Linked DNA regions of Homo sapiens. The protein of the gene in region 3 purifies or fractionates together with the protein of the main gene of each other region. This does not show direct contact. Each region holds a gene or a part of one and is shown on either strand. Other genes may lie near its edges.

Region 1 (3,652 bases), about 98 Mb from region 3:
GTCTGGAACTCCTGACTTCCTGATCCCCCCGCCTCAGCCTCCCAAAGTGCTGGGATTACAGGCGTGAGCTACCTCAGTGGCTGAATTCTTTATAATTTATAAAACATTTTCACATGTTATCCCACAACACACTTGAAATATAGACACACCAATGTAATAATACTCATCTGCTTTTTCTAGACTAAGTTAGCCTTCAGAGAGGTTGTATCACTAGTGATAGCACTAACACTCATCCAGAAGTCTAAGTCAGAACTTTGGGAGTCATCAGTGACTGTTCTCTCTTCCCCATTATTCCCCCACCGAAATGGTTCCCCCAGGCCCCATATATTCTACCTTCCGGTTGACTCTCAAATCTGTTCCCTCCATGGCACCATCACTGACCTGCCTTGGTTTAACGGACACCCCATTCCTCTTAGGCACCTGCATTCTTCATGTTTCTCTCTGACAGGTTCGGTTGACTCCACCAGGTAGTTGTGGATTCTATGATGGCCTCCTTATCCTTCTGTTGCAGCTCCTCACTGAGGTACAGATGGATCTTGGGATGGATGGGAAGTAAAGAGAGAGGAACTGGGCATTTTGGGGAGCCTCTGGACCAGAGGAATGAAGAAGCAACCCACAGCCTTCCCTCTCAAGCTACTGTGCCTGTGATAGCCTTGGAACTTCCCCGCCTGCCCTCAGTACTGACCCTTTGAAGGAAACCATTCGCTGCGTCCCCTGGGATCCAGTGGGAGATAAAATGAATTCCCTGGGTTTCAGCAGACATACACATGAGTTGTGAGGTCAGAGGGTTAAGGTTTGATAAGAAAATGAAATAAGACGACAGGGAAATACTAGGTGGGAAAGCGGAAGGAATTATTTCTGGGACTTCCTTTACTTGTAAGTCAGGGACAGGAATGAATAAAAGCATTTGGATTCCTGACTTCTGTCTTTCCCCCCGCCCTCTTTCACTTTTATCTCTAGCAGGGGAAGGCTAGCCTAATCAGGGATATGTCCAGTTCAGAAATGTGGACCGTTTTGTGGCACCGCTTCTCCATGGTCCTGAGGCTCCCCGAGGAGGCATCTGCACAGGAAGGGGAGCTTTCGCTATCCAGTCCACCAAGCCCTGAGCCAGACTGGACACTGATTTCTCCCCAGGGTATCTTTCTATCAGTATCCTTTTTGGGAGTGCATTGATCTCTCTTCAAGAGGAGGCAGCCCAGAACTGGGTTAACCCACAGAGGTTTATTTTTTTTGCTTTTGCCTGGGGACAGGAAGCAGTGTCTGCACTAGAGCTGCTCTAAGATGGGGAAGGGACTGAATAGGTGTAGCCCTGGGAGCTGTGGGGAAGCAGGGGTATCTGGGCGTCTTGCCTGTTCCATTGGGTCTCCATTTTTGGTGTTACCAGGCATGGCAGCCCTGCTGAGCCTGGCCATGGCCACCTTTACCCAGGAGCCCCAGTTATGCCTGAGCTGCCTGTCCCAGCATGGAAGTATCCTCATGTCCATCCTGAAGCATCTGCTTTGCCCCAGCTTCCTGAATCAACTGCGCCAGGCGTGAGTTTGAGCTAGAAGAGAGCCACAGAGTCAGCAACGGGGAGGGAGAAAGAAGAAGGCAGGAAAGAAGTTACTGACAGATTGAGCTATAAAGCAAGAAAGATGAGATCAGGTTTAGGCTGGAAACCTAAGTAGTGGCTGAGACTGTAGAAGGGGAGTTGGGCAAAGGAATTGGAGGAGGGAGGGAGGAATGATAAAGGTTAAGTGAACAAGACCAAGTCTCTTCGACATTCCTCTCCTTAGGCCTCATGGGTCTGAGTTTCTCCCTGTCGTGGTGCTCTCTGTCTGCCAGCTCCTTTGCTTCCCCTTTGCGCTGGACATGGATGCTGACCTCCTTATAGGTGTCTTGGCCGACCTCAGGGACTCAGAAGTTGCAGCCCATCTGCTGCAGGTACTTGGGCAGCTAGCATGAAGGTGGGAGAGGAAGATAGCCAACCTTGTATCCTCTAATTTACTTCCCAGCAGCTCCAGGGCTCTTCTAGGCCCCTGTAAGCATGGAACAGCTGGCTTGACTCAAAAGTTGGCGTGGAGACAGTACTCAGACCTGCGCATGTGGTGGAGGCATGTGGTGGGAGCTGGGTTGGTGCCTCCTCCTCTCCATCAGTCCATCACCTGGTTCTGTTGGTGCTCATTGGGGAGAACATCCTAGTCTAGGCACTGAAGACTCACCTCCTTGGCCAGGAATCATGTTTCTGGCAATTCTTGGCATTGCACAGTGGGTCTTTGTTCTTTTGTTGTTTCTTTTTGTTTTTTCACAGTGGGTCTTTGAAGGCAGAGACTGAGCCCTTGCAAAGTAAGGAATGATCTTGGAAAGAACCTGCTCTCTCAGGCTCCACGTTGTGTCTCATGTGGAGTGCTGTGGGGCAGGACTTCCAGCTCTCTGTGGCATTTCTCACCATAGCTTGGCTTTTCTCTCTCCCAGGTTTTGGGCTTCTTTATAGCTGCATATACTCTCTCTCTCCCTGAATCCTTTTACCTCCTGTTCTCTCAGGTCTGCTGCTACCATCTTCCGTTGATGCAAGTGGAGCTGCCCATCAGCCTTCTCACACGCCTGGCCCTCATGGATCCCACCTCTCTCAACCAGTTTGTGAACACAGTGTCTGCCTCCCCTAGAACCATCGTCTCGTTTCTCTCAGTTGCCCTCCTGAGTGACCAGCCACTGTTGACCTCCGACCTTCTCTCTCTGCTGGCCCATACTGCCAGGGTCCTGTCTCCCAGCCACTTGTCCTTTATCCAAGAGCTTCTGGCTGGCTCTGATGAATCCTATCGGCCCCTGCGCAGCCTCCTGGGCCACCCAGAGAATTCTGTGCGGGCACACACTTATAGGCTCCTGGGACACTTGCTCCAACACAGCATGGCCCTGCGTGGGGCACTGCAGAGCCAGTCTGGACTGCTCAGCCTTCTGCTGCTTGGGCTTGGAGACAAGGATCCTGTTGTGCGGTGCAGTGCCAGCTTTGCTGTGGGCAATGCAGCCTACCAGGCTGGTCCTCTGGGACCTGCCCTGGCAGCTGCAGTGCCCAGTATGACCCAGCTGCTTGGAGATCCTCAGGCTGGTATCCGGCGCAATGTTGCATCAGCTCTGGGCAACTTGGGACCTGAAGGTTTGGGAGAGGAGCTGTTACAGTGCGAAGTACCCCAGCGGCTCCTAGAAATGGCATGTGGAGACCCCCAGCCAAATGTGAAGGAGGCTGCCCTCATTGCCCTCCGGAGCCTGCAACAGGAGCCTGGCATCCATCAGGTATACCCTACAGCACTTATGAACCATGATGATCAGGGCCCCTATAGTTGACAACATTTCTCTGAGATCATCTGTAAGGAATTGGAATCGGGACATGGAGAAACTTATGCCGTGTTTCTCCCAGGGACAGTGTCTTGGAGTGAGTTTTCTAGTTACATCTCCTGCCTTGGAGGAGGGAAGGGAGCTAGAAGAGGGCTCCAATGGGCTGGGAAATGTCTGAGATCTCAAGGACCACAGTTGATCTCTTCTAGAGGCTGTGCAGGAGGGAGATGAGGGAAGACTAAGAGATGCTGAGATAGAGTAGTTTTACTCTGTGTGCCATGAAGGTGCTGACTATTTTTTTTTTAGACTTACCATGAGAAAAGCACGATGCTAAGCATTT
Region 2 (2,590 bases), on a different chromosome or scaffold from region 3:
AATTTTTTTTTCTTTTTTTCTTTTTTTTCTGAGATGGAGTCTTGCACTGTCACCTAGGCTAGGGTGCAGTGGCACAATCTTGGCTTACTGCAACCTCCGCCTCCCAGGTTCAAGCAATTCTCCTGCCTCAGCCTCCTGAGTAGCTGGGATTACAGGCACGCATCACCACAGCTGGCTAATTTTTTGTATTTTTAGTAGAGACAGGGTTTCACCATGTTGGCCAGGCTGGTCTCAAACTCCATGATCTGCCTGCCTCAGCCTCACAAAGTGTTGGGATTACAGGTGTGAGCCACCACGCCCGGCCCATGAATAAGTACTTACTAAGTCTCTGTGATTTGGGGGTCATTACAACAGACTGCCTGCTCAAACACAGTGACAGAAAAAGAGGCACCAGTTTCTGTATCTACAGGGAGCAGTTAAGTTTATGCGCAGGGAGCAGTTAAGTTTATGCGCAGGCAATGGGAATGATACTGTAATCTTGAGAATAAATGCAATCAATGAAAAGATCACCTTATGTAGCCCAAGGAGTTTAGTCTCCTTTGCTCAGACAGACAGATCTTTATTAGTGTTTTCAACTTATTTTGCTCACAACTTCCCAGCAAGAAATGTCTTACATTGCAACCAGTTCTCACATTTAGATGTATGGGTGAAAAGTTTCACAAAACAGTATTTGCCTTTACTACATGATGCATTCTGGCCTACTTTATTCTGCTTCATTGCTGTGTAATGCTGGTGACCACTTGCTAATTGATTTCCCATTTTACTAAATGGGCTGGGACCCACGGTCTGAAAACCCTGCCTTAGGCTGCAAGCATTTCTGTGATCTCTGCGAGCTACTCCATATAGGTAAACACACGCGAGGTAAACTAGGAAACAGCTTCTGCTTTTGCAGATTAGAAGTGAAGTTGACATCACGCCAAGTACGAAAAGGCTAAACAGCTGACAAAATTTCCACTTGAGCAACCCTGGGGAGCGCAAACAGGAGGAATCGGGGCAAGGGTGACTTGAAGAAAGCACTGGCAGATCACGCACTTTAAGGCAACTCTACACTGCACAATGTCAAATAACCTAGCATGGGGCGGCACTAAATGGCTGCAGGAAAGCCGAGTCTTCTTCCACATCCGGCGGCTCCCCTCGGATGCGAGCGCTGGCCCAGGGTGTGTTTACAGAGGTGAGGGCTTCCCGTGGACCCTTCTCGTTGGGAGCGCTTAGCCTCAGGAGCGGATTCAGGGCACAGGCAGAGGACGTCCACAAACACCACAGGAAGCCGCCACCCAGGGGCGTGGAAAGGCCCAATGCCTCGTCTGGGATTCACGGCCGGCAAAGCGGCCCCTCCGGAACGGGACAGCACAGCGGCTCACCTCTGCGCCTCTGGGGGTGCGGGGGGAGCCTCGCCCTCCACGCTCTCTGGGGGACCGCCCGCCCTAGCCCCCGCCTGGGCTTCGCGGGTGGACGGTTGGGGGCCCCGGGCGCCCCCCAGCGCGTAGCTTTTCTCCTTCTCGTGGGTCTTCTGGTGCTCGGCTAGGGCCAGGCTGAAGTGGAAGGTCTTCCAGCAGCCCTGACAGGCGTAGCGCTTCCGGCCGCCATGGCTGCTGTGGTGCTCCATCAGGTGCGAGAGCCACGCGAAGGCCTCCCCGCACTCGCCGCAGGCATAGGGCTTCCCGCGGGACAAGCCCGGCTCGTCAGCCCCAGGGCCCTGCCCGGCCTCCAGCCCTGCGCTGTCGCCGGAGCTAGAGACGCCCTCGAGGCTCTGCCCGTCCCCATCCTCGGGGTGCGGCCTCTTGGTTCCCAGTTTCGCCGTGCCCCTGTCCGGGGCAGGCTGCTGGATGACGGACTGCCTCTGCGATCCGGTGGCAGAGTCGGACTCCGCGTCCTGGGGGTCCTGCGGGTCCGGGGCCTTCCCAGGCTGCTCTTCCTCCTCCTCAGTGGTGCCCGACGGGGGATCGGCAAGGGCGTCCCCAGGGGGCGCCTCCGTAGGCAGCTCAGGCAGCACCCCCGCGGGGGCGGCCTCCTCGCAGGCGCACCCAGCGCTCTCCTGCCGCCTCCCGCCTTCTGGAACAAGGTCAGAGCCCTAGCGTGAGCGCCCCGCCCAGGGCCAGGGAGAGGAGGACCCAGCCGAGCCTCAGCTGCCGGAACAGCGCACAGGGCTCCGGGCTCTGGATCCCCGCGGGGCTCACGGCTGTTTGGAAGCAGCGCTGTCCCTCCCAGGCAGCCCTGCAGCGCATGCCCCGCGCCTGCTGCTGCAGATGTGGGACCTGGAGGCCTCCAACAACGGAGGCCACCGACAGGACAGGAAGGACAGCCCCACTGAGCCCGGGTTCTGGAAACCGCGCCTTTGGAGGTCTCCACCTGGCCACTAGCTTGGCCACAAGATGCACGATGCAAGGAGAGCCTGCTCAGAGCGCACCCTCCTGGAGGGAGGGGCCCGGCTGCCAGCGAAGAGAGTGGGGTCAATAGCTAAGGCCAAACCCCCCAGCGACAAGCCCCCTGGCGACAGGCACCCAGGGCCCTCCAGCCCAAGTCCGCCTCTAGGTGTTCTTGTTGGTGTGCTGGCACAGAGCCTCCAATGGGGCAGAACGGCCACCCCCGG
Region 3 (3,652 bases):
ATTCCTCTCGGGGAGAATGCTGGTAGTGATAAGAGACTCGCTGGGACCCCATTTCCTAGAGCCTCTGCCCATGGGGCTCTGAAGTTCAAGTTGCAGATGTCCTCTAGCCTGAGAGGTCAAGTCTTAGCTTCGTGAATTCTGAGAAGTTGCACTTGGCTGCTTTCAAGGATGGGGACAATGAGTGGCTAACAGCGCTCTCAGGGGCGGCACGGGGCCATGCCATGCTATGGATGGGGGTGCACTTCCCAGGGAGACGGCATGGTGGGACTGGCCCCTAAATGTCCGGGTTACTAATATGTGTTTGCATGTGTCTGTTGGTGGGGTGGGTGGGGACTAGAAGTGTAAAACTTTAGATCTGCTTTATACATATAAAGACATATTTGTACCATGTGACCCTGCCCTTTTCTGGCTGAAATTAGTCACACCGGGGTGGCCATCTGATCTCTGAGCCGGGCCAATCAATGTTCTCTCTCAGGCATCTGAACACAATGCCACAGCTTCATCCCCGGAGCCCCAGGGCCTGGGCTGCCACTTGGAGGCCTCCTGCGTTAACCTGCAAGGGGCAGATCCAACAGAGACGCAGGCAGCAGCCAGCCCACTCCGCCTTCCTTCTGCATGAGACACTCCAACACAACATCCCCTTTCCTAACACCAGCTTCTGCAGGCTTTGGTTGGTTACAACCAGTGGTTCTCAGCTACACAGGACCTACCTGGATAGACCCTTACTGTTATTATTACAATAGATCATATATGGTTTGCATGCAAAAGAGTGCTTACCAAAGGCTCTTTAATGAGCATAAAACCCAAAAACTTGTTGTTTGGAAGTAGTGTGAAGGAACGCCAGCCAGCCTGGTCACCATTCAAGGGGACCAAGGCTGAGGAGTTGACAGTGTTAGCGTGAGAGAGGCTGGCTGCGCCCTGCCCCAGTGCCCTAGCTGCCCCTCCCCATCCCCACACCCTACTCACCATCAGCGGGGCTGAGGCCCCTGGCTGCAGAGATCATGGAGAGCGTGGGGCTGCTGTGCACAGAACGGAGGTAGTGCTCCATGTGGGGGTTCACGTACGGGTGGGGGGCGTTGAAGGGGGACTCCCCAGGGCCAGCCGGGTGCGGGGAAAGCCGGATCAAGGAGATGTCAGAGATGACAGGGCTGCCGCTGAGGGCAGGGGGCCTGCAGAGACAATGGGCAGCCGTCTAAGAAGGAGGACACAGAGGGAACCCCACCAAGACCCCAAAACCAACATGGACAGTCCTTGTCTCTCCTGGAAAGACTTTCCAGAACAACCTGCACTTATTATTTGCTACACCGACATTCCCCTGGTCATCTGTGAATTACAGTCTGAACTCTCAAGCATTAGTCAGTGAATGCAGAGTGAAAGCTCCACGCTGGTGCGTGCACCCGCCGGCCAGTTCCACGCTGGAGAATGGACCTCGCACCCGCGACTGGACTTGCTGGAGCACACGCACAGCAGGCCGCCCACACGTCACAGTTGCACTGTGGCTTCCCCAGTGCCTCCTCGGGGCTAGGCACAGGCTTGCATGCTAGAAACATGTATGAAAACGAATATGAAAATACGAATACCACGGGTAAAACGCAAAGAGCTCATACTGCTAACAGGATATGTGAAAAAGAGAGGGATCAGGAGATGTCCTGCAAGTGGAGAGTTTCTGGCTTCAGTTGGATGGTTGGTTGCTGGTGTGACCAGCTCGGCCGCAGGGTCAGGATTCAAGGCAAGTTTTGAAATTGATGAGCCCTAACTAAAATCTTGGAATATCTCCTCGTTCTCCTTCCATGGAATTCCTCCTAGCGCTAACAGAACCACCCTTCTCAGATGCCCCAATAGTCAGGTGTGCATTGGGCTTGGTGCCGCTGGCTTGGGCTGGCATGGCCAGGGCCCACCCCCATGTCCCCAAGTCCGCCCACCAAGAGTCATGGAATCCATTCGATGTGACCTCAGGCCCTTATGTCAGGCCTGCTGACCTGGGGCCTCTATGCAGCTGCAGGTGTATTTTGAGGTAATCTACTCCAAAACTCACTCATTAAAGATGAATCAGACTTTATGGTGAAGCAGCTGCAAAACCACAGCTAAGTCACCAGGAACCACATTTACCAAGATTTCATTTTTATTCTTTAGTCTATAATTTGACATTGTGCAAAGAAAAGAGAGTGTGTTAGAATCAGACAAACCTGGGTTAGAATCCCAGCCACATCACACTGTAACCTCTCCGAGCCTCAGTTTCCTCATCTGTGGAATGGGGATCATAATAGTGTCTGTTTCATAGGGTTGTCGTGAGGATGAAAGTCCCCAAAACTGTGCCAGAGACATGGCAGGCAGTCATGAAAGGAGAACTGCTGTTAGAGGGTTAGAACCACACTTTGAGGGCTAACCTAGCATTGCCCGGGAGGCCCTCCCAATCTTCACACTGGATTGATGCTGGACGTGTGAAAGGCCACTGCTGGAACTGGTTATTTCAGGGAGGAAATGATTTGTCTGTTGGCTGAGCAAACCAGAGATAATTACTGATCATGCTCAATAGTGCATGAAAACTGGGCTTACAGTACAGTACAAACCAGGACCCAAACAGGTGACATCCAGATGTCCTCACATCTGGGTTTCACAAACACCCCCCTGGGAGGCCGCTGTGCCAGGCCTGGAGGGAGTCTTCCGCAGTTTGGTTGTCTAGCTTCAGCAGACGTGACTGCCCTGCTCATGTAGATCCCACGAACCTGCTTCTGCCTTTTTGCCTACACCAATCCTTGGCCTCCAATGCCTTCCTGCACCCTATACTGTGGTGGCAAACTCCTTCTCATCCCTGTCAGCCCAGCAGGTGGCACCCTCCCTGAAGCCCCTTCTCTTGGCTCAGGATCCCTTCTCTCTGCTCCCCAAGGGTGCACTGTTCCAGGCTCAAGCTGACAGGTGCATCTGCCAGGTTCCCAGGCTCTGCCTGGGAGCAGGGCATGTCCGAGGCTCTTCTGCATGCTCAGCACTTGGCATGGAACTGGCGTCATGCAGGTGCTCAGAGGTACCTTCAGAATCAGTGACAGCCACATGTCTGTGTGCCAGCCACTGAGCTCAATGGGAGGGAGACTGTGGAATAAGTCACAAGTCACAACCTCAAGACGTTCTCACTCACAGCCTGCCTGTAGAGGTGGGTGCCTCTGCATGGGAACTGCATGAAATGCGGAGGGCTTAACAGATAGCTTTAGCCTAGGCGGGGGCTGCTATGTGTGCCCGGGAGAGGAGAAGTGGGACCAGACTAATGCACCCCTGGACAAGGGCAGGTCCTGTGGGCTCCAGCCTGTGACTGCAGCAGGATGACACTCACATCCTGCCACGGGATGGGTGGGTTGTGAAGAGAAGGCTCTGAGACAACATCACGCCTCTATGGCTCCTGGGGGCAGACCTGGGCTGAAGGATACAAGTTCTGGAAGGCTGAGTGTGGCTCAGCAAAATGCAGGGTGTCTACAGGCTGAGAGAATAGCTAAGGTGCCTTCTGTCCTGACTTCTCGGTCCTCCCCAGACACTCCAGGCACGGCAGGTTCCCAGAGCCTGCAGGATGCCGGCCAGGGTTTGAGGTCACAGTAGCCTGTAATCAGATGCCGGTGGCCCTACGTGGCTTGTTCAGGTCCCGGGAATGCCAGCCTCCCTGGCA

Evidence for each region.
Region 1: the proteins of GLI2 (region 3) and STK36 purify together in Homo sapiens (affinity purification with western blotting, with the first as the bait; one study listed by BioGRID). This does not show direct contact.
Region 2: the proteins of GLI2 (region 3) and ZSCAN18 purify together in Homo sapiens (affinity purification with mass spectrometry; one large-scale study listed by BioGRID and IntAct). This does not show direct contact.

Annotation. Positions count from the first base shown.
Region 1 is NC_000002.12:218,696,079-218,699,730, forward strand, and holds part of STK36 (serine/threonine-protein kinase 36), read left to right. Parts: intron 1-448; coding exon 449-523; coding exon of another isoform or gene 524-556; exon of another isoform or gene 557-919; intron 920-960; coding exon 961-1,135; intron 1,136-1,384; coding exon 1,385-1,532; intron 1,533-1,775; coding exon 1,776-1,923; intron 1,924-2,523; coding exon 2,524-3,270; intron 3,271-3,652.
Region 2 is NC_000019.10:58,083,328-58,085,917, forward strand, and holds the end of ZSCAN18 (zinc finger and SCAN domain-containing protein 18), read right to left. Parts: intron 2,053-2,590; coding exon 1,358-2,052; 3' UTR 529-1,357; downstream 1-528. UniProt on the Homo sapiens protein: May be involved in transcriptional regulation.
Region 3 is NC_000002.12:120,948,760-120,952,411, reverse strand, and holds part of GLI2 (zinc finger protein GLI2), read right to left. Parts: intron 1,170-3,652; coding exon 967-1,169; intron 1-966. UniProt on the Homo sapiens protein: Functions as a transcription regulator in the hedgehog (Hh) pathway. Functions as a transcriptional activator. May also function as transcriptional repressor. Requires STK36 for full transcriptional activator activity.